Homo sapiens: one gene and its partners. The protein of the gene in region 2 purifies or fractionates together with the protein of the main gene of each other region. This does not show direct contact. Each region holds a gene or a part of one and is shown on either strand. Other genes may lie near its edges.

Region 1 (4,443 bases), on a different chromosome or scaffold from region 2:
GGTTTTCATCCCAATTGTGCCCCTCACCCCTTGCTTTGTGACACCATGAACAAATCATTCTTCTCTAAAGCCTTGGGAGACCTGTATTCCTTTCATGCCATGCCTTGACATAGTGTTCCTCAGACCTTGGGAGAACGTTGCAAAAAAAATGTACCACGAACATATAGGAAAACATTATACATTTATAGTAATTCAATTAGTGTAGCAGTGACACTGGCACATGTAATTGGGATGAACAGTCTAGCAACCAAAATAGATATGGGAGTTTAGATAGATCAATGAGGCTATATAGAGAAATGGAGACAGATTATTCAAGAAATTCTGGCTGGGTGTGGTGGCTCACACCTGTAATCTCCGCACTTTGAGAGGCCAAGGTGGGCAGATCGCTTCAGCCCAGAGTTCAAGACCAGCCTGGGCAACAAAGCAAGACTCCATCTCTACAACACTTAAAAACTGGGCCGGGCGCGGTGGCTGAAGCCTGTAATCCCAGCACTTTGGGAGGCTGAGGCGGGCAGATCACGAGGTCAGGAGATCGAGACCATCCTGGCTAACATGGTGAAACCCTGTCTCTACTAAAAATACAAAAAATTAGCATGTTGTGGTGGCACGTGCCTGTAGTCCCAGCTAATTGGGAGTGTGAGGCAGGAGGAGACTCGCTTGAACTGAGAGGCGGAGGTTGCAGTGAGCCGAGATCACACCACTGCACTCCAGCCTGGGCGACAGAGCAAGGCTCTGTATTAAAAAAAAAAAAAAACACTTAAAAATTTGCCAGGTGCAGTGGCGTGTGCCTGTGGTCCCAGCTATTCAGGACGCTGAGGTGGGAGAATCAGTTTACTATCACTTTACTCCAGCCCAGGCAGAAACAGAGCAAGACCCTGTATCAAAAAAAAGAAAAAAAAAAGAAATGTGCATAAAATATAGATTGTTCAATAAATGGTGGTATTGGGACAATAAAAAGTATCTGGGAAAAATAACTTTGAATCTCTGTATCACTTCTTATTCAACAATAAATTTGAGATAAATCAACATGAAATACTGAAAAATAAACTATATTATTATTATTTTCTTTTTTGAGATGGAGTCTCACTCTTGTCCAGGCTGGAGTGCCATGGCACAATCTCGTCTCACAGCAACTTCCACCTCCCAGGTTCAAGCAATTCTCCTACCTCAGCCTCCCAAGTAGCTGGGATTACAGGCACCCACCAGCACGCCCAGCTAATTTTTTTTTTTTCCGAGATGGAGTCTCACTCTCTCACCCAAGCTGGAATGTAGTGGCTCACTGCAACCTCCCCCTCCCAGGTTCAAGTGATTCTCCTGCCTCAGCCTCCCGAGTAGCTAGGATTACACGTGCCTGCCACCATACCTGGCTAATTTTGTGTATTTTTAGTAAAGACAGGGTTTAGTAAAGACAGGGTTTCACCCTGTTAGCCAGGCTGGTCTCAAACTCCTGACCTTGTGATCCGCCCGCCTCGGCCTCCCAAAGCGCTGGGATTACGGGTGTGAGCCACCATGCCCGGCCATTCTTGCCTCTTTGAGACTCACTTTTCAAAACTGCTGTTGTTAGATGATCCTTATAAACATGTTGCTGAGGGAAAGAAGCCAAACGCAAAGTAATCAAATCTACATGACTCCATTTATATACTTTTAAAAGGAGCTTCACTGATCCATGGTGTTAAGAGGTCAGGATAGAGGTTACCTATGGGGAGTAGGGAGGAGGCAGAGATTGAGGCAGGTCCCAAGGGTTGCTTCTGGGTTGCTGTTAATGCTGTTTCTTAATCTGGATGCTGGTTCTTTGGATCTGTTTGTGAAAATCCTTTTTGATCCAGAGTCTCTCTCTTTTTTTTTTTGAGACAGAAAATCCCAAAGCGCTGGGATTATAGGCGTGAGCCACCATGCCTGGCCTCTTTTTTTTTTTTTTTTTTTTGAGATGGAGTCTCGCTCTGTCACCCAGGCTGGAGTGCACTGGTGCCATCTCAGTTCACTGCAACCTCCGCCTCCAGGGTTCAAGTGATTCTCCTGCCTTAGCCTCCCAAGTAGCTGGGATTACAGGTGCCTGCCACCACTCCTGGCTAGTTTTTGTATTTTTTAGTAGAGATGGGGTTTCACCATGTTGGCCAGGCTGGTCTTGAACCCCTGACCTCAGGTGATCCACCCGCCTCAGCCTCACAAAGTGCTGGGATTACAGGCATCAGCCACCGCCCCCAACCGATAGTGAAGGTCTTTTCAATCAATAATTCCCAGATGTTATCTCACAGGTAATCACTACCTGCAGTGAAAGCTAATCACAGCAGGAAAGATTCTGAAAGCTACTTGCCTGGAAGTTTTTCAGGTTTCATGATCTACATGGGAACCAGAATTTGGAGTACCAGCAACAGGTTTTTCAGGATATTTGCTTTCAGAAGCAGCCACCCTATTCCCCTGCCCTCAGCCAGAAGCAGCACAATACCTGTGGGCCCTCCCAGTCTCCCCACACTCCTCACTAGCACATGTGTGGTTCCTGCGCCTCCTGCTGCATCTCCCATGAACTTGCTCTAAAAGCTTTTTTGTTGTTTTGTTTTGTTTCTGAGACAGTCTTAATCTGTCACCCAGGCCGAAGTTTAGTGGCAAGATCTCAGCTTACTGCAACCTCCTCCTCCCAGGTTTAAGTGATTCTCATGCCTCAGTCACCCAGTAGCTGAGATGACAAACCTGCGCCACCAAGCCTGGCTAAACTTTTTTGAATTTTTAGTTGAGATGGGGTTTCATGTTGCCCAGGCTGGTCTCGAACTCCCGGCCTGAAGTGATCCACCCGCCTCAGCCTCCCAAAGTGCTGGGATTACAAGCTGGGTATGGTGTCTCACCCCTGTTATCACAGCACTTTGGGAGGCTAAGGCAGGCAGATCACTTGAAATCAGGAGTTCGAGACCAGCCTGGCCAACATGGCGAAACCCTGTCTCTACAAAAAAATACAAAAAATAGCCGGACACAGTGGCTCGTGCCTGTAGTCCCAACTACTCGGGAAGCCAAGACAAGAGACTTGATTAAACCTGGGAGACAGAGGTTACAGTGAGCCGAGATCACACCACTGCACTCTAGCCTGGGCGACAGAGAGAGACTCGAGACTCCGTCTCAAAAAAAAAAAAAAATACACGCCACTGTGCCCAGCTGAATATTTGCATTTTCAAAAGATCAATGGTGATTATCTCTAGGTGGTGGGAGTATAGGTAACTGGCACCTTTTATTATTTTTTGCATTTTTATTTTTATTTTATTTTTGAGATGGAGTCTCGCCTGTCACCTAGGCTGCCGGGATCTCGACTCACTGCAACCTCCGCCTCCTGAGTTCAAGCAATTCTCCTGCCTCAGTGTCCTGAGTAGCTGGGATTACAGACACGCGCCACCATGCCCAGCTAATTTTTGTATTTTTAGTAAAGACGGGGTGTCACCATGTTGGTCAGACTAGTCTTGAACTTCTGACCTCGTGATCCACACACCCAGGTCTCCCAAAGTGCTGGGATTACAGGCGTGAGCCACTGCGCCCAGCCGATTTTTTGCATTTTTCTAACTGCCCACGGTGACTCTGTATTATCTTCAGTATAATAAGATTCATTGGGATCCTGTATCTAATTACAAAAGCATTTTGTGCTCAATGCAGAAAACTTGGAAAGCACAAAGAAGAACGTCCCCTTAACCCCATCATTTAAAGGTAACAGCTGTTGCCAGGTGCGGTGGCTCACGCCTGTAATCCCAACACTTTGGGAGGCTGAGGCAGGCGGATCACGAGGTCAGGAGATTGAGATCATCCTGGCTAATACGGTGAAACCCTATCTCTACTAAAAATACAAAAAATTAGCCGGGCGTGGTGGCAGGCACCTGTAGTCCCAGCTACTCGGGAGGCTGAGGCAGGAGAATGGCGTGAACCTGGGAGGCAGAGCTTGCAGTGAGCTCAGATCGCGCAATTGCACTCCAGCCTGGGCGACAGAGTGAGACTCGGTCTCAAAAAAAAAAAAAAAAAGATAACAGCTGTTAACATTTTGGCATATGTCTTTCCAGACTTTTCTCTCTATAAAAATCTTTCATCTTTGTGATCTCAAAAAAAGTAAACATTTAAGAGACAAAGCTGGGGCCAGGTGTGGTGGCTCAGGACTGTAATCCCAGCACTTTGGGAGGCCAAGGCAGGCAGATCACTTGAGGTCATGAGTTCAAGACCACCCTGGCCAACATGGCGAAACCACATCTCTACTAAAAATACAAAAATTACCTGGGCATGGTAGTGAGCCCCTGTAATCCCAGCTACTCTGGTGACTGAGGCACAAGAATCGCTTGAACCCAGGAGGCAGAGGTTGCAGTGAACCAAGATCACACCATGCACTCCAGCCTGGGCAACACAGTGAGACTGTCTCAAAAAAAAAGAAAAAAAAAAAGAGACAAAACCTTAGGTCTTTAGTCTTCAATTTTATTTCTA
Region 2 (4,443 bases):
GTGGCTCTGTGTGGCTGGTTCTGAGCTCGTGCCTGTCGCCAGCCCAGGTCTTACCTGCCTCTCAGTGTGGGCTCATGGCTCTGGACTCTGCAGACAGTGTCCCAGGGTTTTCCTCCTTTAGTGGTCTTGCAGATTTAGGATGTCAGCAGGATCTTAGAAATTCCTTGCCTTGCAGTTGCAATGAGTCGAGATCACGCCACTGCACTCCAGGCTGGGCCACAGAGAGCAAGACTCTGTCTCAAAAAAAAAAAAGAAAAGAAAAAGAAGAAATTTTGTGACCTGACTTAAAATGAGGATTATGTCTAAACTTAGATCATAAAGTGACTTCCAGGGCTGTTGTGGTGGAATCTAAAGGACATTCTGAGAGTTGTGTTGGGAGAGGAGAGCCACGAGGCAGGACATGTGCATTTCTTGCTCCCTCCTTTGTGCTTGGCCTGGTGCATCCAGTGTGGTCCAGGCACGCTGCAGCTCCAGCAGCTCTGTGAGGCGGGAGCGTCATCTCGTCTGTCCTTAGTGCCAGTCCAGGGTGCAGTCCTTGCCTGTGGTGATGCCCGTATGGCGGAGCCCAGGATGAGCCCTGCGGTCTGCGCCGGCCTGTGTCTCCCTCCACGTTCTTTGATAATCAACATGCTCTCGTTTTCCCCTGATGTTCTCGGTAGGAAAAAACACCCCAGAGCGCTCGGGGTTACCGAAGGGCTGTCTTCTGTACAAAACCCTCCAGGTGCAGATGTTGGACCTGCTGGACATCGAAGGCCTCTACCCTCTGTACAACCGGGTTGAGCGATACCTGGAAGAGTTTCCCGAGGAGAGGTGAGGTCGGGCGGTCCCCCTGTTGGGCAGCCCTGAGAGGAGACTGTGGGAGTGGGCAGGGTAAGAATGCGCCTCCCAAGGCACAGCTTCCCAGGAGGATGAAGCATGCCGGCCACTTCCTACCCCAGTCCTCCGCTCCCAGGTGCCCAGGCCTGCTCTGGAATGTAGTGCCTTGTAAAGGAGGAACAGGGTCACTTGTTTCTAGAAAAGAAAGCACGTCTGTGACCTTGCTAATTCGAAACCCCAAGATGGGGCTGAGCCTGCAGAGGGCAGTGTTGCTCCACAGCTGAGCAGCGCTCCTGCAGGTCGTTCTGTGTCAGCCCAGCCTCTGTCCTGGGCTTTCACTGCGGGTCATTGGGGTCCACACCCGCGGTGTCCAGTCGGGGCCAGGATCCTCTTCCTTCCTCGCTGGTCTTCCTTGCATCTCTGACGCAGGATGCTACTTGTCATGAACAGGAGAAGGCTCAGCTTCAAGGCTCGCTGGTTCTGGTCTTGCTGAGTTCTGTTAAAAACCTTGATGTTTAACATGAGGGAGATAGATCTGTTATGTGTTTTTCAAAACAAAATGTGTGATGTTTAGTGGTGCTGGGCTTTGTAGACTGTTAGCAGTTTAAGAAACAACCTCCGTGCGGCTTTGTCATCCTGTTTTTATTGTGCTTTCTTCTTCAGAAAAACCTTACAAATAGATGGGCCTTATGATGAAGCATTTTACCAGAAGCTGCTTGACCTTTCCACTGAGGATGACGGGACAGTGGCCTTCGCGCTAACGAAGGTGGGCAGACCCATCCAAAAACTTGCTGTGTGATCCTTAGCTTCTTAGCACTAATCTGTTTTTTTGTTTTTTGTATTTTTTTTTCCATTACCTACCCCTGAGGTTTAAAGCAGAAAACTTGGGATCAAAAAGAAGTGGCTGAAGTTTCTCCCAGATGAACTGGGGCAGGTGGTGGTGCATTGAGGTTTTAAGGGGAATTTCCCTTGGTTGAGTTCTGCCCTGGCCCGTTCCTGGTGGGGTCAGGCCCCAGGGGCGGCCGATCTGCAACCCATCTGCATGCCTTCTCAGCAGCCCACAACAGGCTCTCTGCCAACTGTCCCTTGCTACAAGGCCCTTGCCAGGGTCCTGGGACCCCACCTGTGCCTCTGCCCTGCCCCTGGCTGTATGCGGGCGGCTTCCTTCCCTTAGAACCGAGGCCAAGGGACAGCCTGCAGGAGTCTCTTAGGGAAGAGGACTGGCCCTGTACTTCCTGGGTCTGTGAAATTCAGGGCTCCATGAGCTTGGATAGGAAAAAAATGGCATCTTCATTTTCACTAAGCTGTACCTGGAATTTAGCATTTCTTTCCATTACGAATGTGGCAATGAGCCTGTGGGTTCATCAGGACCCAGGAGTTTGCCACTAAGAGAATAAAAAAACAGACTTTCCGTCTCACACTGTAACTGCAGACACTTTGAGATGTGGTTTATTCATCACTGCATTAAATGTTACATATTACTACGGAATACATTTGTTTTTAAAAATATTTTGGCTCAGCACTTTGGGAGGCTGAGGTGGGAGAATTACTTAAAACCAAAAGTTGGAAGCCAACCTGGTCAACATAGTGAGACGCCCATCTCTACAAAAGAAAAATTAAAAAATTAGCTGGACGTAGTGGCGTGTGCCTAGAGTCCCAGCCACTTGGGAAGCTGAGGTAGGAGGATGCAGTCAAGGCTGCGGGGAACTGTGATCATACCGCTGTGCTCCAGCCTGGGTGACAGAGCAAGCCCCGTCTCAAAAAAACATTTTTTTTTTTTTTTGGTATTTTACATTTCTGCCACCTGTATTTTATATTACACATTTTAAAATGTTATCCTGGGCCGGGTGTGGTGGCTCACGCCTGTAAACCCAGCACTTTGGGAGGCTGAGGCGGGTGGATTATGAGGTCAGGAGATTGAGACCATCCTGGCTAACATGGTCAAACCCCACCTCTACTGAAAATACAAAAAAATTAAGCAGGCGTGGTGGCAGGCGTCTGTAGTCCCAACTACTTGGGAGGCTGAGGTAGGAGAATCACTTGAACCTGGGAGGCAGAGATTGCAGTGAGCCAAGATTGCACCACTGCATTCTAGCCTGGGCGACAGAGCGAGACTCCATCTCATAAAAAAAAAAAAAAAAGTTATTCTGAGAGAGGCCCATAGGCTTTACTAGGCTGCCAAAGCCTTTACAGGACAATAAGCAGTGAGGAAACCTGTTCTGGAGCGAGCTGGCGCTCCTCCCCACATGTGCATGCACCGCTGCCTGGAGCCCTGGGACCCACTTGCCCTGTCCCGTTGACATGTCTGTGGCTCACATTTGGGAGAGAGCCCTCAGTGCTTTCTTTAACTGGGGCTGCAGCTGTCTGTTTTGAGGAGAACTGAGGATGTCTGGTAAAGCCTCAGGTGAGGCTCTGACGCAAAGGGCCACAGGGATGTTAGCAGAGGCCCAGGGCAGAGTTGTCATCCTGGTGAGGAGAGTTCCAAGTGGAGCCCTGGGGTGAGAAGAAAGCAGTGGCACCTGCCTCGTGCTGTCTGCCAGTTGGGTACGTTGATTTAGGTATAAACAGCAGTGTGGCGGGTTTTTTCCTAAGAGAAGAAACAGGACTTTATTTCCTTTTTATGTATTTCTGTATTTTTCAGTTTTCCACAAAATAAGTATGGATTACTTTTTAATTTTACTTTAATCTTTTAACCTGATATGTAAATGTAGTGTTGTAAGCAGCTAAAGCAGACATTACTTAACTAGCAGAAGGGCTAAAATAAAGACACTGAAACAACACCAAATGGAGGTGCAGAGAAACTGGATCTCTCATCTGTTGCTGATGGGGATGGAAAATGACACAGTCACTCCGGAAAACAGTTTGGAAGGTTCCTACACACTAAACACGCAATTACCCTGTACTTGTGCTCCTGGGCATTTATCCCAGAGAAATGAAGACTGACACTCACCAAAAAACCTGTACAGAAATGTTCACAGCAGCCCTTTTTGTAACAGCTAAAAACTGGAAACCACCCACATGTCTTTCCACGGTGACCTCCAGCGGGTCAGACAGACTGTGCATTCATACCACAGAACTCTGCTCAGCACCAAAAAGGAACAGACTCTTGCTAAACAGCCCAGGTGGACCTCCAGGGGGCTTTGTTGGTGACGAAAACCAATCTCCAGAGGTCACACTGAATGATTCTGTGTGTATAACATCCTTGAATGGCAAAGATTTGTGGTTGCCAGGGGTTGGCAAGGAGGAACAAGGGAGGTAGATGTGGTTATAAAAGGTCAAACCAGGGGATCCCTGTGGTGATCAGACTGTTCTGTATCTTGACTGTGGTGGTGGATGCATGAACCTACGTGTGATCACACACACACTCTCATACACACTCGCATATATGTAAAACCCGAGATATCTGAATAAGATTGTGGATTGTGTCAGCATCACTCACCTTGCTGTGATATTGTAGCTTTGCAAGATGTTACTGGTGGGAGAAACGTGGCTTGAGGTCTTTCCGTGCTGTCATAGAAGGGCCTGCCCTTTTTCTCTTGTAGGAAGTTAGCTTCTGGTAATTGAACCTGAAGAGGGTAGTTGTGAAGCTGAAGCTGAGGAGTAGGCTGAGGACATTCCTTCCTACAC
Region 3 (3,500 bases), on a different chromosome or scaffold from region 2:
AATGTACATTGTTTTTCTAGACATAATGCTATGGCACACAACAGACTAGTGTAAGATAAACAAAAGTTTTATATGCACTGGGAAACCAAAAAATCATGCTTTACTGTGATGCTTGTTTCATTGTGGTGCTCTGAAACTGAACTCACAGTTTCTCTTAGGTATACATGTAACCTTCTTATAATTTTGTTAGTGATGGAAGAAACTAAGTGAAATAAATAATACATCAAAGATCAAAACTTTGTACTTTATTCCTCTAGAAGCCTAATTTTTAAGTAATTTAATCTCACAAAAAGACAATTTCTGGAAAAACAACAACTGCAGAACCTTTAGGAACATGTAATATAAATAAAACACACCTGGTTCATTGGTCATAGCTGACCATGTCAAATACATTGTGTAGACTGTAATTACTGAAGACTGTAACAAACCAGATCTTGGTTGTGATTCCTACAAAAAAAAAAAAAAAAAAATATATATATATATATATAGCAACACAGGTAAATAGTCTGACATCATTCTAGATTTTTGAAAACTTAAAAAGGTATAAGCTTCATAAAAACTAATGCTTTAAAGGGCATACTTGGATTTTTGGCAGTATAGACATTACAGAAGCACCAACGCAGAGGAGCATGTTGACACTGATGAACGCCTTGTTTTCTGAACAACTGGCTGGATGAGTGTAGTAGACAAAGAACAGGACGATAGCAACTAAAGACAGCAGATAATTCAGAGCTGTAGCTGATAACAAGGCTGTGAAAGAAATATAATTGGATAATTAGCTTTTTATCAGAAATTATTAGCAATTAGAAATGGGACCTGTTTTATAAACAATCTGTCATTTTGTCAAAAAATATATTTTAAGCAACTAACATTGTCAGCATTATAAAGGCTATAAAAGCAGGAAAGAAAATTAATTCTGACCTTTATTGCTGAAGAATTCTAGTTTTTACACATAGCTATTATGTATTTGCAAGGATGGCAAGTTAGTAAGAAACTAATAGGATTTAATACTAATATCTATATTAGAGTTTACAAACTATGTTTACATGTTAGCCATTATTTTCAAAATAAAGAAAAATAACTATAAGAGGAATATTACTTAAGGTTTTTAAAGAACCATTATCACTCAGTTGTAAACAAGGGCATTAAGAAAATTATTTTCATTATTAATGTTAAGCCCTCACAACAATGATGCTTTTCCTCATGAACTAAAATCTTAAAAGATACATATTATGCAAGGGTAAGTCATTATTTAATAAGTCAACCTATGCTTTTTCTATGTAAATTTCAACATACACAAGTTGTTTAGCCTTTATGCTAATATGTGCCTAATATACAAGTATTTATGTAGATTTGCCTCGCTGACAGGGGATCCATCCAACAAATATTTATTGAATGCCTGCATTCCAGGCCCTGGGGATACAGCAGGGAACAAAAGACACAGAAACCCTTGCATTAGACTTTGCATTTAGAGAACAAGGTATTCAATGTAAGTGAAATTTCCAAATGACTAAAGCTTATTTCTTTGAGCACCAAATTATTTTAACTTGAACCACTGAGATAAAACACCACAAATTAGTTGTGTGAGAGGAATATTAGGCCAGCAGACACACTGGATTTGGCTTGCACTCCAATTTAAAATTTTTTTAGCTGAAACTCAGTCATTTAGCATGAAAATCCAGATTTATGACTTCTTTTGAAAAACATTAGAAAAATCAAGCAATACTAAGTTCACATTCCCACAAGGCAACTAATAAATGGAGCTGAGCAGTAGTAATGCACTTTAGATGGGGCATTCATACTCTCCAATTCATTGTAGTCTATTTGCACAAAGCTTATGCACTTAAACTCTGTCCTCCTGTTCCCTCATTTTTGTTACCTGGTTTGGCCCTGTAAGCATTTGAATTGGGATATCTGTTTTCAAGTATAACCCCAAAGGACTCAACATCATCATTATAAATAATCATTAATTACATTACTATAGGAATTCCTTTAGTTGTTATTGATGCACATAAAAGCATCCTTTGCACTTGAATAAAACATCCGAGTTGCTTTTTATATTTTTTATTTGCTGCTGTTTATGAATTGTATCACTGTGTGTTTATCTATTCCTAGCAATCCTCTTCCCTTTAATATTTTGCTTTTAACCCATTGTAGGCTAGAAAATTAGGCTATAAAGTGCACATGCTTTCAGTAATATGCTTTGGAACATTTATTTTAGCTATTCAGGTTCTTTTGGATTCTTTCCTGGTTCTTGGGTTATGTTCCCAGTTAATCTGCTAAAAGATCTGCTCACCAAGTTGCTGATACAATGTGATATTTTGACACTCACAAAGTTTAAATTAAAAACCTCATCATAGGAAAGTAGACCATAAAAATCCTAAGTGATTTACCTAGTCTACATATCTATTCTCGACTTCAAAGTTCAACTATACTGAAGTTGTTCTGCGACGAAAGCTTACCTGCATACCAACATCTCGAGTTCCCTTCTTCCATTTTTTCAACCCACGATTCATTCCATGAATGTGCAAAATCAATAAGTAAGACTAGTTGTATGAGGATGAAACAAAAGGCACCTGCCATGCCTACATAAAACCACACTGAAAGGGAAAGAAAGCATACATAAGTGATTGGTTAGTTTGATTTTTATCATTTCCTTTCAAAATCACAGTACACAAAAAGGAAAATAAAATTTTATATGAACATCTTGATTTTGCCAACTGGGGAAACACACACACACACACCCCCAAACAAAAAGACAAACAATTATAGTTCCAGGTGACAATTATTTCAGATTCCTTTATAAAATATCAATGTCAAACAACTTAAAAAGGATTTCTTACCAGTTGTAAAAGTTCCTTCTGGAATGAAGAATGCCCCAATAATAATTGCAATTGCTGCAGCAAATTTAAAGAACCAAAATCTAAAACAAAAAGAAATATAATTTTTTATTAATAGACATTCATCAAATAATTTCATATATGAAATCATTTAACTGCATCTTAACAAATAGCTACACTTTATGTGAATGTTCTACTTCTTTCTGAGGATATTATGATCTGGAGTGTAGCCATATTTGTAACTACAAAACAAGGTAATCATCATATTTAGATAACATAGTTTGGAGAGAGAGTGAAATTAACCATTACCATGAACCCAAGCTTATATTATAGATCTTTCCAATTGGAAAAAACAAAGCAAAAAAAATCTGATAAGAAAGGCAAGTCAACATGTGAAAGGAATGGATTAAAGCCCAGACCACGCTAGAGGAAGCATCAGAGCAAATGGCTGGAAAAGAAAGGGAAATGATAAGACATTTTGGGGACTACTGGACACTGGCTCTGAGCTGACATTGATTCCAGGGGACCCAAAACAACATTGTGGTCCCCCAGTTAAAGTAGGCGCTTATGGAGATCATTGGGTCACTCCACCAGGAAAAAAACCACGACCTGCTGAGTTGCTTGCTGAAGGCAAAGGGAATACACAATGGGTAGCAGAAG
Region 4 (5,059 bases), on a different chromosome or scaffold from region 2:
GAGTTTTTAAAAGGCACAGAGTTTACTTATAAATATTCTACGGCCACATCTAAATAAGGAGAGAACTGTATTTTTTCAGGGATTTGGCCTGTCCAAAATCAGCCACTAGGAGGAGCACTCCAGAAGAGGGAGGATTATTTTATTTTATTTTTATTTTTTGAGACGGAGTCTCGCTCTGTCGCCCAGGCTGGAGTGCAGTGGCGCGATCTTGGCTCACTGCAACCTCTGCCTTCCAGGTTCAAGCGATTCTCCTGCCTCAGCCTCCCGAGTACAGACGGGGTTTCACCATGTTGGCCAGGCTGATCTCGAACTCCTCACCTCAAGTGATCCGCCCGCCTCGGCCTCCCAAAGGGCTGGGATTACAGGCATGAGCCACCGCGCCCGGCCGGGGAAATTTTTTTAAAAAGCGGAGTTTATCACGTCTAGCCAGATGTGATATCACGTCTATCTCTTCCCTTTTCCACTATGTACTGTTCCTTTGCGAGGTTGGTCCCTTTAATTCAAAATCCTCTCACCTTTTGCCTTCTGTGGGCCAATGCAGCATCTTCATACACGTTGCTTACCTAGAAGGCGTGGCTCCACCGTGAATTCTAATTGGTCCGTGCTATCGAGGCACTGTCCCCTTACTGGCTCTCGCTCCAGTGGCCCCCACTGCTTTTCTTCCTCTTCCAGCAATGGCTCTTCGGGCCCAGAGTTCGAATCTCGCGATCGGGATGGGGACGGAGTACCGGCCTGGGGTGTCCCAGAGCCCGGACTGAGCTGGGGAGTCAAGACCTCGGGCGATGAGGGCTGAGCAAGTCGGAGTCGTAGGTCCAGTTCTGATACGGTAGAGAGAGGAGGCCGTGAGCTTTCTTCTTGGAGGTGCCCCAAGGAGAAACCACCCACCCCTCTTGGCTTTGGTCCCAGCACCTCGGACATCTCACCTTCCCCAGCTTCTCCTGTCTCCAATCTGTTGGGTTCTTGGGGTTCTTCGTCTTCCAGCGGGGTGGAGCTGCTGGTGGAAGAGTCCTCCCCGGATCCCGTTCCCCGGGCCACCCAGCCCAGATGGTCCAACCGAAGCCTCAGGTCTTCCAGAGGGCGCTCGGATGGAGGCGCGGTGTCAGGATCACCCCGTCGTCCAGGCTCCGGGGATTGGCTCAGGCTGGGGATGCTCTCCAAGCTGTCGCCCAGGCTGGGCTGAGGGTGCTGGTCTCGTGGTTCCGAGACTGAGCGGCCCTGGGGGCGGGGGCGGCGGGCAGTTGAATCCCTGCGGCCCCCGGAGCCCACTACACCATCAAAGGCGATGTAGGAGAAGGTCAGCTCCCGGGGGGTGCCCCAGTCCTGCGACGTGGTCTCCTCCTCGTCCTCCTCTGAGAATTCCCGGGCTGTGTGCAGCTCTCGAAAATCAGAGTCGTCGTTCCCTCCTGCAGTGGGTGAAGGAGAGCCTTGTTTCCCTCAGCAGGTCCCTGAGCTGCCCAGCCCTGAGCCCCTTCACATGCTCCCCACCACTTACCTTCTGTGGAATCAGGAGTTGAGGAGGCTGTAGACGGAGCTTCTTCTGCGAGAGGGAAAGAATCGAAGACTCTTAGAAGCTTAGACTGTCCGAATCACAGAAGTGTCCCAGTCCTGGAATCTTAGAATATTTGAATCACGGGATTTTTAGAACATTCTGCACACAGACTCTAAAACCTAGCATCACTGCCTGATGAAGCTCAGAGTCTTTGAAGTCCAAATCCAGGAATCTTAATCTTAGAGTCTTCAAAGTAGGAATCTTAGGAGGTTTCAATTCATTCATTCGTTCAACAACCACTTATTGAGCACCTACTATGTGCCAGGCACTGTTCTAGGTCCTGGGGATACAGCTGTGAAGAAAACAGACAAAATCCCTGCCCTCCTAGAGCTGACACTCTTTGGGATAGACAAACAATAAACAAGTGAATATATGACGTCGGGTGCAGATGAGCATAGGGAGCAAAGTAAAGAAGGGTAGGGGAAGAGAAAGTGAAGGGGTGCTGTTTCTCATAGGGTGGTCAAGAAGGCTTCTCTGATAAGATGACGTTTGAGCAGAGATCTGAAGGAAGTGAGGAAGCCATGCAGATGTTCAGGGACGTCTTCCAGGTAGAGAAGAAAGCCAGTGCAAAGGCCCTGAGCCAGGCACCATGCTTGGCATCTGAGGAACTGAGAGGTGCGAAGATATGACTGGAGAAGAGTGACTGAGGAGGAGAGGAGTGGGAGGTGAGAACAGAGAGGTAAGGGCGGTGGGGAGAGACAGACGAGGTGGTCCTCCCTTTGTAATCTGAAGTTAACGACAAGATCATAGAATGTTGGGATGATACTCGAAAATGCTGAAATCACCAATTCTTAGAATTTTGGCATCTGGACACGCGAGACATGGAAATGGCTAGATCTAAGGGTGTTGAAATCCCCAGCTGTCAGAACCCCCATGTGTGGGACAGAGAACGGTAGACATGGACTGTTATAGCTGTGAGCTCAGAGATTGTGAGGCTAGGCGTTTTCAGCTGGGAATCCAGCCCCTTAGAGCTAGTTCAGAGCTTTGCACATAGATGATGCTCAATGCGGTTTGGAAATTGAAATCTGACGCCCTGTGCCCTCACCTCGTTTCCTCAGCTGGGGAATAGGAGGCCTGGAATGGTGTGGGTCTTCCCCAGGATTACCATTAACCAGTGGTAAAGACCGCTAAGAACCCATGAGTCCTTGCCCCCAAACCACGGATGGCTGTTTTCCCGGGACAGGGTTGGACAGTTTGGGCGAGGTCGGGGCTGCCTCTTGGACAGAAAACGGGGATGGGATGCGAAGGCAAGTGATTGGGAGCCAGACCCCTGTTTTCCATCCTGGCTCTACCCTCCGTTCAACCCCCTCCCCGCCAGCTGCGGCCAGCACCAGAGCCAGGGGACAGCTCCCCGCGCGCGTCCTCGCTCCCGGGCGGGGCCGGGCGGTACGTCCCAGAGCGCAGCGCGCCCCCCGCCTGCTGTCTCAGTGCCCCCTCACCTCCGCCCTGTTTCGTCCAGGTCCTCCGGGTCAGGCTACCCCCGTCGCCGCCAGAGCGCGGGGGAGGGGAGAGCTTCCTTTGTCTCCTATGCCTCCTCCCCCCATCCCGGCTCTCCTGCGGGCAAGCGCCGAGGGGACACCGGGGAGTACCCCACCTGAACCTCTGGGGCCCACACCAGGCCCCAGTCTTCCTCTACTCACTGCAGTGGGCGAAGACCGGCAGGACCTGCCCCATGGCCCCCCTCGGGCCTGCATCGGGACCCCCGCCCACTCCGGCTGTGCCGCCCTGGGCCCGGGGTCGCGGGCGCTCATCTCCGCCGCGCCCACGACGCCGCTGCCATTCTCGCCGCCTCCTCCTCCCGGGCTGCTCCAGCCGCCGCCGCCGCCGCCGCCGCCGCCGCCGCCCTGGTGCTCGGCTCGGCGGGGGCGGGCGGGGCCGAGGTGGGGAAGGCACTGCAGCGCGCGGCCGGGGGCGGGGCCAGAAGACGGGCGGGGCGGTACCAGAGGGAGGGTGAGGGGCGGGGAAACGCCGAGGATCAGGCGGAGGGGCGTGGCCTTCTTACTAAAGGGGCGGAACCAAGAGGGTGGGCTACGGAGCCAGGAAGGAGGGGAAAGCGGCCTGAAGGGCGGGGCCTAGATCGCAGAGGGCGCAGCCTTTAGGGGAAGAGGGAAGGAGGCCTGGAGTCTGGCGAGGGACTTGGGAGAGGATGGTGAACGAGCCACGGCAGAGAGGATGAGAGCGTGGATCCCTGGGTGGGTTGGGGTGGTGCTCGGGGTGCCATTGAGGAGGGGGTGGAAAGATTCTAATGCTCTGAGGTAGGGTCCGAGCCTAGATTTGCAGAGGGAGCGAGAAAGGGGGCCGAATGAAACGATTCAGAAACTTTTGGGGCACGCGGAGGAGCTCAAACGTGGGCAGGGCTAAAGCAACAGGGAATTATTCAAATATAACTGGGTGGGGTCGGATTCCAGGCGATTCCAGGTCTGCGAAAATTAGAAGGGTCTGGAGCTGTGTGCCTGAATCCTGGATGGGCGGGGCCTGGAAGAGAAAATAAGCGAAGCCCCAGAGGGGAGGGGTCGAACTAAAAACAGTAAAGAAAAAAAAAATATGTATATATATATATATATATATATATATATATATATATATATATCTTTTTGAGACAGGGTCTCGCTCTGTTGCCCAGGCTGGAGTGCAGTGATACGATCACGGCTCACTGCAGCCTCGACCTCCCGGGCTCAGGTGATCCTCCCACCTAAGCCTCCTGAGTAGCTGGGATCACAGGTGTGTTCCACCGCGCCTGGCTAAATGTTAATTTTTGTAGAGACGGGGTCTCGCTATGTTTCCCAGGCTGGTCTCAAACTCCTGGGCTTAAGCGATCCGCCTGCCTCGGCCTCCCTAAGTGCTGGGGTTATAGGCGTGAGCCACCGCGCCCGGCCAAGTATGGTATTTACAGGTTTTGAGGCTGGGGGCTGTACCACTGAGGTGGGAGGAGCTTGGACTGAGTGTTGTGTTGAGAACACAGATTCTAGAATTAGTTTCCCTGGAACACCGGTTACTTCTGTGACTCTGTTTCTTCTTCCATATGTAAACTGGAGATGATGATGTATAACAGTGTGTGACACATTAGTACTATGTAATAGTTTGCCACTGGTACAGTATTATCTTTTTTCTTTTTTTTTCCTGATTCAGATCCCAAACCCCGCTTTGTAGGTGCAGGAAACAGGAGACCCAGAAGTGTAATTCCTTCTAGTGACCCGCCTAAAGAGCAGGTCAAAGGACAGGAAGGAGATTTAGATGGTTTAAAATCTCACAGCGGAGGGGATTAATGGAGGGGGCGGGCAGGTGTACAGGGTGGAGCCTTCCTGATCCCAGGGCTGAAGGATGGCGGTCCTGGCCCGCCAGCTGCAGCGTCTCCTCTGGACCGCTTGCAAGAAAAAGGAGAGGGAGAAGGAGGGGAGGGAGGAAGAGGAGGAGGAGGAGGCGGGGCGCAGGGCCCCCGAAGGGCCTCGGTCTCTGTTGACAGCGCCGCGCCGCGCCCAGCGGCCGCACGGGGGTGCCGAGGCGTCTGGG
Region 5 (4,443 bases), on a different chromosome or scaffold from region 2:
GATTTGCTGTAAGAAGCTGAAGTGACAGTGATGTCATTTGACTGTGTGAGACCAGGAGGAGACCTCACAAGTGCAATCTATAAATTGCCTCCTGTCCCCGATCCCCTCACCTGCCCACCACACCTGGCATTACATTAGGGCATTCAGGGCTGGCAGACACACTTTGAGTGTCAGTGGCTGCTGGTGGGATGACAGCATGACTGCAGAGACCCCACTCTAGGCAGTCAGAAGTTTGTCCCTGCAGGCCTGGTATCTCTAGTGCTAATGAGGTCAGCTTGGCCTGGCCTGCTTTGTCACCACCCAAGTGCTGTGCCCGGGACCCTGGGCAGCTGGAGAGCAGAGATGGTGTCATGGCAACAATATCAGTCTAGAAGTCAGGAAAACCTGGCTTCTCTTCCTACCTCCCTCTGTCCTTGGACCAGTCACGCCTCCCTACCCATCAGTTGATCTTTGTGGTCCCTTCCAGGTGTGATATTTCTGTCATTCCACTGACTCTGGAAACTCTGGCAAGTCACTCAGCCTTGGACCTCAGTTTTCCCATTGTAAAATGATGAGGCTGGATGTGGTCTCCTTTCCAAAAGTCTGTTTCTGCCTTGGAAAGGCATTTTTCTGCCTCTGAAAACAGGAGTTCTAGCATCTGGCCATGAGTGGAGAGAAAGGTGGTCTAAAGATCTGAAGAGTCCCTGTTCAGGCCTCAAAAATGAAAGCCCATTTTTCCCAGCTTCACCTTTGCAGTGTGGAATTCAGCCACCACTCTGCCACTTAGCAGCATCTCTGAGCCTCAGTTTCCTCATGTATAAAAGGGGAACTAAGCTGGGCGCAGTGGCTCACGCCTGTAATCCCAGCACTTTGGGAGGCTGAGGCAGGGTGGATCGCCTGAAGTCAGGAGTTTTGATACCAGCCTGGCCAACATGGTGAAACCCCGTCTCTACTAAAAATACAAAAAATTAGCTGGGCATGGTGGCGGCTGCCTGTAATCCCAGCTACTCTGGAGGCCAAGGCAGGAGGATCGCTTGAACCCAGGAGGCGGAGGTTGCAGTGAGCCAAGATTGCGCCATTGCACTCCAGCCTGGGCAACAAGAGTGAAATTCCGTCTCTAAATAAATAAATAAAAAAAAATAAAATGGGAACTAATAGTATCCAGTTATAGTGCTATTAATGTGATTATTACATAAATAAATGCACATAAAAGTTTGTATACACAGGAAGTGTTCAATGAGTGACAGCTGCCCCTGTTAATATTTTAACCACCTACAGCAAATGCATCCCTACCTCAGCCTCCTACAACCTTCCTCTGAGCTGAAGGATTACAAATCTCTCAAACCTAGGCTGCCACCAATGTCCTTCCTTAGGGTATCAGGGTTTCCATGTGTCCTATACTGTTCACTTGAGCTGGTCATGGCGGGAGGGAAGATGACACCAGCTGCCTTGTAGGGATAAGGGTGGGGGGCTGAGGCCATGCTCCCTCTGCACTCTCAGATACCCAAGAGCCTGGGAGCTGATTTTGGGGTCTTGCCTATTCTCTCAACACCCCTGCGTGGGTAGGAGTTCCGTTGGAGCCCTCATTCTGTCATCTATGGCAGCTGCTTCCCTTGCAGGTTACCCCTCCTATAAGAATAGAAAGTGCTTTGCAGTTCTCCTTCCTACCCTAACCATGGAGCAGAGCCTCGGGTAGACTCTTGCAGAGACTGGGGTGGGAGGAGCAGGGTGGGAGCTGAAGTTCTAGAATAGTTGCTTCTGGGTTCTAGTCTACCTCTGACTCAGTGGGTGACATTAGGTAAGTCACCTTCCCTCTCTGGACCTTTTTTCTCTCCCCAGCAGTCAGGAATTCTTGCTTGTCCTTGGTGGGGAGGGGCCAGTGGTGTGAAGAGGATTTAGGCTATTGGGAAAACTGTGGGAATGACTCCAAGCCTTAGGAGTTAGGTGCATTCCCCACCCCACATTGTGCTGTGGACCCCGCATGAACTCTGCTTTGTTCCATGTTCACCTGACTCCCAGGCTAGTACTTATTCCAGAGGAGAGCCTCACTGTAACTCAGCTCACCACTGGCATCTCCTGCAATTGTTTACCCATGTTCCTGACCCAGAATGCCTGGCAGAGGCCCGGGAGCCCATAAAGCAGGTATTCATCTTGTCTCCTGACCAGGGACACAAAAGGCTTCTTTTGTCCCTTTATATCTTATAGCTTTTTTTGGTTTTGGTCTTTGCAAGGCGAATCCTGCCATCTCCTCTGTAGATTAAGTCTGTGAATAGGGGAGATGGGGTCACTGCCCACTTCACATGCATGGATATCAGACCCAGCAACTGGTTTCCTATAAAAATGACACTAGAAGGTGCCTCTCTCACTTCTCAAAAGAAGAGAAGAACAAATAGCCTAAAGGTCACCTTGAAACTGTCTCAAGAAGCCCAGATAGGACTCTAAAAAGGAAGCGATGACCTTTTTCTCTTTGGGAAAATAGCAGACTGACTGCAGAACAGTGGGAGGGAGGTCAGCTGGGGACTGGGAGGAAGGCTTCAGGTAGGACATGTGTCTCTAGGAGTGCCAAGGCACTTAGAGGGCTTAGTTGGTCAGATTGCCCAGACTTCATTCAGCTGAGCACCCTCGAAGTTTGCCTTTCCTCTCCTTCCAAGCCAGCCCCATGGCGTCCAGCCCTGGTACAAAGGAAAGACGTAGTCAGAAGCCCTGGGTTCTGCTCCTGATGCTGCCTCTCAGTACCTGTGTGACCATGAACCTTGAGGTTCATGCACCTCATTCTCTGAACCTGACTTGCCTCATCCTTAAGACCAACGTAGAGGCTGAACGTGGGAATGCCTGGTAGAGTGCCCAGCTCACTGTAGTAACTTTCAGGGCCGTGCAGATTCTTCCCCTTTTGGGAGGTCTTCCCAGCCCACAGCAGTCACTTTCTCTTTCTCTCCCAAACCCTTTTCCCTTATTGTTTATCCATAACAGTGGCATTAGGCCTTGCCTGCCCTGTGACATCTCCTGTGTTGAACGGGTGTGTGTGTTTTAATAATAGTTGCCACTTAGTATCTACAGAGTAGTGTCAGGCACTTTATAAAAGCAATCTTATTTAATCCCTACTCAAATCACATGAGATAAAAGCTGTCTCTGTTTTGCAGATGAGGAAATGGCTCAGAGAGGTTATCTTCAGTGATGTCAAATTGCTATTTATTGTCTGTTCGAGTCTTGGCATAGCCTGCTAGAGGGGTGCAGCTGCATCTCCTGCCTCTGGCATTCCCGCAGCAGATGCACATGGCCCTGCACTGAGAAGCGCCCAGCTCACTGCACCTGCACTCAGGAATTGTAGGACTCCCTCTAGGAGTTGGGCACATGTCGTTGGTGGGAGCCCTGTCCCTGCCTTGAGAAAGCTGTAGGTGTTCTGTGTCCAGCTGTGCACCTGTCCTTTGTTTTTGTGAGTCTTCTTGGATGCACCTGAATCCTGCATTCAGGAGGCCTATCCCTTGTTCTCTGCTAGCAACCCTGCCTGCTATCTCTCTTCCGGTGCCCTCTCAGCCATCAGACCAGAGCTTGCTTCTTCCCTGCTTGGGCAGGGAAGTGCCAGGTAAAGGGTGGTCTCCTTTAGCCACAAGGGGTGGCTGACCTTATGACCTCCCGCCTCTGAGCAGAAAGGTGACAGGCTGCTTTTGGTTACCCTCAGGGCCCAGCAGAGTCCCCTGAGAGGCAGCCTCTGTTGGGAGCAGGTGGCACAACTTTGTTTAGCTCTACAAGGCAGGAGGAGTTTAATAGTACTTCTCATTAGCACTGAAATTTGTTTCCAAAGCACTTGTGTGTACAATATTTAATTTAGATCTTCTCAGTGGTCCTGTGGGTTAGAATAGCATGTGGTATTGATGTGTTCATCATTTTACATCTAAGGAAATTGAGCCTTCGGTTGTGACCTGCCTGAGGTCACTTAGCATGCCTGGGACTAATCACTCAAGGCCAAACTCTCTCCTGCCAGGCCAACATGCTGGGTTCTTGTTGGATCAAGGGGGATGAGAGATTTAAAGGGGCTTTGAGGAGAGTCAATGACCAGACACATCCACATTGGTAACCTGGATTGTTGTCAGGAGGGACACCTGTTCCTCCTGTAGGCAGGAAGGGCTAAAGGGTCTGGGTGGTCTGGAGCCTTGACAGCTTTGGCTCAGCTCCAAGTTCTTTTCTACAACTTGAACATACCTGTATTTGCATGAAGGAGGATGAGGGCCAGAGTTGCACTGGGGACTGACATTCTCATAGCCCTTATCTGTGGAGCAGCAAATCTTTGAAATGGAGGACTTGTCCTTTCCCCCAGAATGTTGCATGCCCTCTGGGAGAGAAAAGGAGAGGCAGAGAAATGATTACAATGGAAAACATGTAGGATGGGGTGAAAGGTTAAGATACCTGAGATCTAGTCTCAGCTCTCTGTTGCCCAGCTGTGTGACTTTAGGCAAGGCATAACCT
Region 6 (4,443 bases), on a different chromosome or scaffold from region 2:
TGGACAGCTTCAGGATGGGGGGTGGTTACCAGAAAGACCAAACTTTGATTAGAAGCTTAGAACTTTCAGCCTCACCCTTAACTTCTGGTGGACGGAGAGGGGCTGGAGATTGAGTTAATCATTAATCATGGCTTACACAATGAAACCTCCATTAAAAACACCCAGATGATGGGGTCTGGAGAACTCCTGGGTTGATCAATGCATCCATGTGCCAGGAGGGTGGCACAGCCCAGTTCTATGAGGAACAGAAGCTCCTAAGTTCCAGGCCCTTCTTGACTTCACTCTGTGCACCTCTACATCTGGTTGTTCATTTGCATACTTTATATAAAAAACCCAGTAAACATAAATAAAATGATTCCCTGAGTTCTGTGGGCCATTCTAGCAAATAATCAAACCTGAAGAGGGGATGGTTGTCATAGAGCTGGTTGGTCAGAAGCACAGGTGTCAACTGGGAGGGCAGTCTTGTGGGGCTGAGCTTAACTAACTGGCGTCTGCACTAACTCTGGCTAGTGCTGGAATTGAACTGAATTGCAGGACACCTTGTTAGTGTCTGGAGAATTGGAGAACTGGCTGGTAGGAGGAGGAAGAGGTCCCCATATATTTGATGTCAGAAGTACTGTGAGTAGATAGATCATACTAAGGAAAAATGCCTTTTCTCCTGTAACATACTGATTGGAGATTAAAGCTATAAAAACACAGATACATTTTACGTTACCAAGATCACGCTTTATCCTGTAAGTTTTTCTGACTACAACCTATAAATCATTAAACATAGTACATATACACATATATGCTTACACACCAATTGCCACAAAAGCTTCACAAACCAGTATTTACGTTTATCATGAGCAATGTATTCTGTTATTTTCTATTCTATTTCATTTTTCAAAAAAATGGTTAACAGTCCACCAGTGATTCTGTAACACAGTGCTATTAGCCTGAAAACATTCTCCCTGGTGTCGGGCTCCATGCCACTCAGACCTGCCGTTCCCATCCTCTGCTGTTCTCTTCAAAGACTGGACATTAACAAGAAGCACTGCTATTATTGTTTTCTTGTTTGTTTAGTGACAGGGCCTCACTCTGTCGCCCAGGCTGGACGGAGCGAGGTGCAGTCACGACTCACTGCAGCCTGGAACCCTGGAGCTCAAGCGATCCTCCCACCTCAGCCTCTTGAGTAGCTAGGACTACAGCTGCGCACCAGCAAGCCCGGCTTTTTTTTTTTTTTTTTTCCAAGTCTTTTAGAAATGGGAGTCTTGCTATGTTGCCAGGCTGGTCTTCAACTCCTGGCCTCAAGTGGTCTTTCTGTGTCAGCCTCCCAAAGCACTGAAATTATAGGCATAAGCCACTGGATCCACTATTGCTTTTAGGAATTGTAAGCCAAAGGGATGTGGGTTGAGTATCTCAGATTATGATCTCTGAAAATGAGACCAGGTAAAGATTTAATTCCAACAGACAGGGTGACTGAAACCTCATTCAGCCAACTCCAGATGCACGCTGTTCTGCAGAGCTGAAAAGATGAGCTGGGTGCAACTATGGGAACAAAATAAAGTCCACATGCTTTCTGACACAAAGCAGAGTCTTTTCCTTGTCTCAGTCAAGAATGGTATAAAGGGTTTACCATTTTGATGGTATAAAGTGGTATAAAGGGTTTACCACTATGATGGCCGTATAAAAATGGAGTGGCCCTCAATTTCGGGCAGAGGAAAGTCAGTCTTTGGTCCTGGGGACATATTACCTAGTCATGCCAAGACTGCTTTCTCTATGAAAAGTAAAATCTTCAAAAAATGATGTTCCAAAATTACATTATCTCAGACCACTTTAGAAACATGATTTTCTTCTCTTTTTTTGAGACAGAGTCTCACTCTGTCACCCAGGCTGGAGTGCAGTGGCATGATCTCAGCTCACTGCAACCTCCACCTCCCGAGTTCAAGAGATTCTCCTGCCTCAGCCTCCCGAGCCGCTGGGATTACAGGTGTGCACCACTACGCCTGGCTAATTTTTGTATATTTGTAGAGACAGGGTTTCACCATATTGGCTAGGCTGGTCTCGAACTCCTGACCTCAAGTAATCGCCTGCCTGGGCCTCCCAAAGTGTTGGGATTACAGCTGTGAGCCACCGCCCAGCCAGAAACATCTGATTTTCTATTATTTCCCTGTGCTTTCAGAAAGACAGCATGCGACTTGCTCTTGCCAAACTCCAACTGAAGTCATTGTCTATCATGTTACATAATGTCTCCTATAACAGAATCCATGAAATAACTAACTCCTTAATTTCAGTGCTGGAAAAAGTTATTTCTCTGAAGATATTTTTATGTTTTTACTCTGCCCTCTCCCACAACAATAAACAACAAACACTAAATCCCAGGAGGAGTTCCTCTTTTAATTACTGCGCTTCTCAAAACAAAATGTTCAACTAGATTATTCATTTCAGGTACTTCATAACATTTCTCTGTTCATGTCAACTATTTGCTCTAATATGTGAAAGTATTTATTATCTCATTTGAAACTATGTTGAATGTTGAAAATCTACTTCAAATTCTTTCCTGGAAGGAAGTAGAAAAAAAAATCTAAAGAAAAATAGATACGGTATTTAGGAAAATTGCTTCCAAGTCTAAGGATGGCCCAAAGAAATAGCCTAGGGACATCTCTGACCTATCAGCTTCTTCCTAAGAAACCTGATGCACTGTGCTGCTAGACGTTACAAATGAACAAAGTGAGTTGAGCTTTCTCTTTTTTGGAGCTGCCATGAATTCAGGTTTTTACACTTAATGCCATCTCGGACACTTAAATACTGAATTTCCCAGGTTACCCCAAAGCTCCAGCAAAAGGAAAGGGGAAACAGTAGCTGCACAACACTTCATCCTTCACGTCCTGAGTTCAGAGTAACCACACAAGAATTGAAAGCATTCCAGAATCCAACACAAAAACCATTCATTCATTGCTAGATTCAGAATCAGAGGATGAGTAAAGGTATGTATGTATACCTTTCCAAGGGGTGTCAGCTGCACAGTAATAAAAACACAGCCAAAATGAAACAGGCTCAGGGGCTACTTTTCAGAATCAAGACTTGAAGACAGACATTCTAACCTGTTTTCTGATAGATTCAGAAGTCTTCATCAAGTTTAAAATATCTTTAAAGTTGATGACTATCGGCATTAAAGATCCTCTTATAAACATTTAAGTACAAGGTACAGTTCTAGGTATTATGCAAGATACAAAGGTTATCAAGGGCTTGATCTTGACCCTTAAGTTGTTACTGAAGGAGAAATGCAAATTGTAGCAGAAAAATTCCCAGAAACCCCTTAAGGATGAATAAAAAATACCCCCTTAAACCTTAAGAGGATAAAAAAGCTGGGCCCTCCTCTCCTGCTGCTTTTGGAGTCCACCCTACCGTGTCATTTCACCGCCCCATGCAACTGCCACAGCCTAATAAAGGCTTATCTGTCTGCAGAGTTACAATTTTTTTTAACTTGATGAAGAATTTCTAGTTTGTTTTTTTTTATTTTATTTTTTTTTACAGTCCCATTCTTAGACTGGACTTAATATTGGTCCTCTTTTTCAGTTTCCTTAGACCAATAACCAAATCTTTTATAAACTCTATTTTCATGTGTTATCACCTGTATTTTGTTTTTATATGTATCATTAATTGTTAAAAATTAAGATTCTGAATCCCTTTGGATATTTATTAGGCTTCAAAGACCTTGATGAAGAAGTCTGAGTGACTGCTAGTTCTCTTACGTTGGCGGTAAGGCTGGGGTGCAACGCACACTGGTTTAGCATGAGCAATGATCACTAAGCACGAGAGCCACGGCCACCCCTACTTTACCTCGTTCACAGACAGAACTGGAAGGTTGGTCCTGGATGGCTGTCTGGTCCTGGATGCTTTTAGTGGTCTCTTCACCTGTGGGAAGTCTTGTTTTGGAACAAATGTTTCCGTTGATACAGATGAGAAATGCCTCTTTAATATTTTTATAAACCATTTAGAACCCAACAGATTTGGTTTGTGGGTCACTCTCCTGTGAGTACCAAAGGATTTCATGGTTGGAAGGTGTGCCTTTTCATCTTGGCAACGAGCAGCATTTAATGGAGACAGCATGCTGGTATCTGACTTTTTTTGGTTCATTTCCAGGATCTGAGACTTATTCAAACCACTAGCTGTTTTATCAGGAAGGAACAAATCCAAGCTTTGACGTATTGTCAGTGTGCTGCATGTTGTATTTTCAAATTCCTTAAGTGGTTTTAACATTAGATGACCGATTCTTCGGCACTGATGTGCTTTTGATAATATATGATGAGATCTGGCCACGGCTCTGAGGAGTGTGGCTGGCATTACCACATCCCAAGCTAAAAGAAAAGGAATTCAAAGTTCAAGTTTTTAAATTAATGTTTAAAACATATATAATATTTCCCTAGGTAGCAGGCATATTTCTGTTAGAAAAATTTG
Region 7 (4,443 bases), on a different chromosome or scaffold from region 2:
TTTTGAAAGTTCAGCCTTTAGCCCCTTTCTCTTTCCACTCCTCAGTCTCTCCTCAGTCCTGCTTTCAGCAAAGGAACTGTCTTCTCAAAGTAAACCTTGTCAAACTCAGCACCTGGAAGCAGGGTTAAGGCCCAGTGGGAGGGGATCTATCCTCACACTTGGCTCTAATCCAAGCAGCTATGCTGGAGGCCTGATGTCTTTGTTCTGGTTAATGGACGGGGTGATGGTGGAGCTGGGGATAGAAACCAGCTCTATTAGCAATTCAAACAGAACATTTTCAGAACCCTTTGAGCACGGTGAAAACCCCAGTGCAGACTCATCCATTCCTATGATTTAATGATCATCTAGATTTTCTTAACTCCCAAACCTCTCTCTCCATCAATAGCGTCCCCTAAGCTCTAGACTCCTTGCCTACTCACTTTACCACCTGGCTGCCCCTCTCCCCCAAGCTTGTCACCCTCTCTTACAAACTTCATCTTCCCCTCTTCATGTATCGTGTCTTCACTGATGGCTACTGTTTCTTTCCAAAACCATAAATCTTGAAGTCATCCTTGATTCTCTTTCTTCCTATCCAGTTAATCCCCCAATATTGTCAATGTCTCATTAGTTTCTCTCAGTTCTCTCTTCTCTCTATTCGGTTCCCACTGACAATATCTGTTTTTATGTTTTCATCATCTTGGACTATGGCCTCTTAACTGGTATGTCTAACTCATCATCTTCCACAATGCCTAAATGATCACTGATAAAGAATAATGGTTATTATTATAACATTTATCAAATATTTACCCTGCATTTCATATGACCTAAATGCTTGTTAAGAACCGTGAAGGGTCTGAGATTTTACCCTACTTACAAGCTAACAAAGTTAGTTGGCCACAGGTTCATAGGTGCTGACAGAAGACACGGACTCCTGTGAAATCTTCACTCCCATGAAGAAGACTCAGAAACAAAGAACCTTATGAGCAGAAAGCATGTGTTTGTTTCTCTTGCCCCGCAAGTCCCATAGCCATGACATGGAGGGGCTCACATGGATGTTGTGCAGGCAGAGGCGTTGCATCACAGCCGAGGAACCCCAAGCTCAGGGAACACTATTCTCTTACAAGGGGCAGAAGACATGTCTGACTTCAGCCCTGAAAGGAGACACTACCTTTACTATACTCAAGAATACACAAATTTGTCCTTTGCTCCAGAGGGTAACATCATCTCTGCCTTCCAAAGCTAGTTACTGTATAAAAAAAGTCCAGAACAAAGGCAGCCAGTGCCTTTGCTAGCAAGGTGTGCAAAAACGTGAAAGACCCATAGAAAACTGTCTCCCAACAACTCTCTAGCCCTCACAACCACCCTGCAAGGTGAGATTCGCCTACCTGATATTTCATAAATAGGGAATGTGAGGCTCAGGAAACCTTGGTGACTTTCCCAAAGTCACAGGTTTTAGAGATGGAATTCAAACTCAGCTCTGATTTCAAAGCTTATGCTATTTCCAATGTTTAAGGCCTCTCAGGTGAGATCATGTCTTATCTGTTCAAAGTTCTTCACTCTCTCTTCTTCACTAGAAAATGAACCATAAACTCTCAGCTTTGCAAATGAATCCTTCCATCACCTGCTCTCTGCCTTCCCTTCCCACAACATCTCCACATATTCCCTGCCTTGCATTTCTGAACCAGCGGGGATGAGCTACATGATGCTGTTTCTCAGCACTGGGTCTGAGACAGCTCCCTCAGTCAGGCTCCCTCATTGAATGGGGGCCATTTGAAGGCAGAGGATAAGATGTATTTATCTCTGTACTCCTTAGCACTTTGGACACAGCAGGAACTACATAGTTTGCTGAATCAAACTGAGGAATAACGTCTTGGTCAAACCAGTGAGAGATGGAAATAAAACAGTGAAAAATTCACAGAAAAGACTAGAATCATTATCAATCAATATTTTTAAAGTACAAGCCATGGTGCTAAAGCTATGAGGTATACTAAAGATGTAAGACAGGCAAGTCCTCTTAAAACACCCATATTCAGGAAGAAGAGGAAAACTGTCATATTAAGGGATCTGTATTATAGGAATGGCCCAGATAAGGGTAGTGAGTTTTAAGGGCTAAAAGGTTAAAAAAAAAAAAAGAGGCATTATGGAGGAGACAGAGGGTAAAAATGGGGTACAGCTTAAATGACAAGTGTTCAGAAGTAGGAAAACAAAGCACAAAGCATTTTTACTAAACTGGAAGTGATGCCATAAGAGAACAGAAGTGAGGCTAAAGTGGTAGGCTGGGCCAAATTGTAATGAGCTTTTAATTCTAGACAAATGTTGTCCACAATGGGAATCTAGGTTCCTGATAACCTGCAGTGGCAAGGTGAAAGAGCTGTTCTAAGACTATGCACCTGCTGGCATATGAGGGTTGGATTGAAAGATGAGAAAAACAGAAGCAGAAGAATAACAAGGGGCTACTGCACAAGACCAGGCACACAGTTAACATTGCTCAATAGACAGCAGAGACACAGGAAGGCTGACAAAAAGCTAGACACCAGAAACAAAGTAGGAAGAACCAGCAAAGGTTCTTATTTCTTGGGGGCAGAAGGGAAGTGGTAAGGGACAGGGAAGGAAAGGACAGAAAACACAAAACAAAACAAAACAAAACAAAACAAAACAAAACAAAATGATTACAAAACTCATCTGCAGATGAACACAATTAACCTAAAAAAAAAAAAAAAAAAAAAAAGCAGAAAAGGGAAACAGAAGGGAGAAAAAATGAGTTCAGTTTCAGACATGTGGATCCCAAGGCCATGGGCCAAAAAAGCCATCCACAGTATGGCTTTTGAATATACTGGGTTTGAATATACTTTTCCTGTAAAACCTATAAAAACAAAAAAGCAACCCACTCATCTTATTAAATGTGTCCCGACATTTTGGAATTAAAGGATCCTATGTCAATAACTGAACATGCTGGGATTAACTGCAATCAGACTCGTGTGTAAGTATAAATTGATTAGCTAAAAATATTAATCAGAATTACAGCATGTTCTTAATATTAAGTTTTGAGTTATGTAAACCTTCATGGACCTACACGACAAGACTGTTTCCAGCATAAATGGAACCGCTCTTTAAAAGAAAGTTATTACCTCTGGGTGGCTCTCACACCCACTCTTGCAGAAGACTTCAGTGGGAAATCTTTAAATGTTTAAATAGTTCTTTGGACTCTCTTGAGTAAACTTATGTGTTTAATCTTGCCTCTATGGGAACATTAGTGTATGTTCTATGCTGATGCCATATTTACGTGAAGCAGAGAATGCCTCTTTATGTCTTTCCATGGTATCTGTATGGATTCCTGTGCTCACCCTTATGGCTACTGTAAGGGAAGGCCTCTCTTATAAAGACCTCTAGACTATGCATTCTCCATAGGGGAGATTCTCCCCCAAGGGAGCAAACACTGGCTCTTGGGTGGGAAGCTTTGAGAAAATCTTTCTCTTTTATATGTAAAACAGTTGCAGAGGATATCTACAATATTAAAATTTCATGGAAGGGGGCAGAGATTAAGAAAAATGTGAAAAGGCTCCTTTTAAAAATAAATTTTAAAAAATACTGAGAAGCACTGCCTTAGGTAATCCCTAAAACCTATGAGGCCGTAAATATTATTAGCAGATTTTTCTACCTGAGAGAGAAATAATACATAAGGGAAATCATACCGTATTGAAGTTTAAACAATTCTAACCTGTGTGGTATGGCCACAGGTGAATAACTCTTGAGTCAGTGTCTCCCATCCTCCCCACCCTGTCTTCCTCATAGAGCTGTGAAGATTAAATGGCATAGGCATATGATGGGCCCAACATCTAGGTGGTGATCAACAATGTAACTCACCATTCAGAAGAAGAATTGGGCATTCTTAAAGATAGATGACAGACTGTCCTTGCTAAACACTGACAACCTGAAACATGCAACAGTACTAAAATATGTGCCAATATATGAAGGGCATTCCACATGCTGGGAGAGCAACAGTAACAACAAATGGTGTATTTTAGTAACTCAAGAGCTAGACACTCTCCTGAGCACTTATCTTGAATAATCTTACTTTATCCTCCTAACACCCTTGTGTGGGAGGTTTTATCGTCTCCATTTTACAGACCAGAACCAAGATAGTCAGTTCATGTTTAATAACCAGCACTCCACTAGTTACTAAATAACCTTTTTTCAATGCTCTGGTGCTGTATTTCTGTTACATCCTTTATCTTACTCCAAAGTCATCTATATATCAGCCTTCCTCCTAATCATCTCTAGGTGAGAGCAAGGATTCTGTTTTAGACATTTTTGAAGGCCCTACATAACCCACTACATAGTAAGCTCCCAAATCAATATTGCTAAATCAGATGGACTATACGCTAAATTAAAAAAAGATAATCAAATCAGAAGATGCATACATATATATATAAAATTTGATAATACATAAAACAAATATCAATA

What was found.
Region 1: the proteins of IPPK (region 2) and TYRO3 purify together in Homo sapiens (affinity purification with mass spectrometry; 2 studies listed by BioGRID and IntAct, with this or other methods). This does not show direct contact.
Region 3: the proteins of IPPK (region 2) and SERINC1 purify together in Homo sapiens (affinity purification with mass spectrometry; 2 studies listed by BioGRID and IntAct, with this or other methods). This does not show direct contact.
Region 4: the proteins of IPPK (region 2) and RTN2 purify together in Homo sapiens (affinity purification with mass spectrometry; 2 studies listed by BioGRID and IntAct, with this or other methods). This does not show direct contact.
Region 5: the proteins of IPPK (region 2) and SLC9A1 purify together in Homo sapiens (affinity purification with mass spectrometry; 2 studies listed by BioGRID and IntAct, with this or other methods). This does not show direct contact.
Region 6: the proteins of IPPK (region 2) and RMND1 purify together in Homo sapiens (affinity purification with mass spectrometry; 2 studies listed by BioGRID and IntAct, with this or other methods). This does not show direct contact.
Region 7: the proteins of IPPK (region 2) and MPZL1 purify together in Homo sapiens (affinity purification with mass spectrometry; 2 studies listed by BioGRID and IntAct, with this or other methods). This does not show direct contact.

The regions. Positions count from the first base shown.
Region 1 is NC_000015.10:41,579,309-41,583,751, reverse strand, and holds the end of TYRO3 (tyrosine-protein kinase receptor TYRO3 isoform 1 precursor), read right to left. Parts: 3' UTR 163-4,443; downstream 1-162. UniProt on the Homo sapiens protein: Receptor tyrosine kinase that transduces signals from the extracellular matrix into the cytoplasm by binding to several ligands including TULP1 or GAS6. Regulates many physiological processes including cell survival, migration and differentiation.
Region 2 is NC_000009.12:92,631,525-92,635,967, reverse strand, and holds part of IPPK (inositol-pentakisphosphate 2-kinase), read left to right. Parts: intron 1-659; coding exon 660-810; intron 811-1,479; coding exon 1,480-1,582; intron 1,583-4,443. UniProt on the Homo sapiens protein: Phosphorylates Ins(1,3,4,5,6)P5 at position 2 to form Ins(1,2,3,4,5,6)P6 (InsP6 or phytate). InsP6 is involved in many processes such as mRNA export, non-homologous end-joining, endocytosis, ion channel regulation.
Region 3 is NC_000006.12:122,451,308-122,454,807, forward strand, and holds part of SERINC1 (serine incorporator 1), read right to left. Parts: intron 2,924-3,500; coding exon 2,844-2,923; intron 2,601-2,843; coding exon 2,463-2,600; intron 751-2,462; coding exon 581-750; intron 448-580; coding exon 357-447; intron 1-356.
Region 4 is NC_000019.10:45,493,603-45,498,661, forward strand, and holds the start of RTN2 (reticulon-2), read right to left. Parts: upstream 3,446-5,059; 5' UTR 3,224-3,445; coding exon 3,190-3,223; intron 1,538-3,189; coding exon 1,493-1,537; intron 1,404-1,492; coding exon 924-1,403; intron 819-923; coding exon 564-818; intron 1-563. Other genes in the region: PPM1N (putative protein phosphatase 1N), read left to right, coding at 4,871-5,059. UniProt on the Homo sapiens protein: Inhibits amyloid precursor protein processing, probably by blocking BACE1 activity. Enhances trafficking of the glutamate transporter SLC1A1/EAAC1 from the endoplasmic reticulum to the cell surface.
Region 5 is NC_000001.11:27,148,032-27,152,474, reverse strand, and holds part of SLC9A1 (sodium/hydrogen exchanger 1), read left to right. Parts: intron 1-4,443. UniProt on the Homo sapiens protein: Electroneutral Na(+) /H(+) antiporter that extrudes Na(+) in exchange for external protons driven by the inward sodium ion chemical gradient, protecting cells from acidification that occurs from metabolism.
Region 6 is NC_000006.12:151,441,483-151,445,925, forward strand, and holds part of RMND1 (required for meiotic nuclear division protein 1 homolog), read right to left. Parts: intron 4,344-4,443; 5' UTR 4,330-4,343; coding exon 3,826-4,329; intron 1-3,825. UniProt on the Homo sapiens protein: Required for mitochondrial translation, possibly by coordinating the assembly or maintenance of the mitochondrial ribosome.
Region 7 is NC_000001.11:167,766,057-167,770,499, reverse strand, and holds part of MPZL1 (myelin protein zero-like protein 1 isoform a precursor), read right to left. Parts: intron 1-4,443. UniProt on the Homo sapiens protein: Cell surface receptor, which is involved in signal transduction processes. Recruits PTPN11/SHP-2 to the cell membrane and is a putative substrate of PTPN11/SHP-2.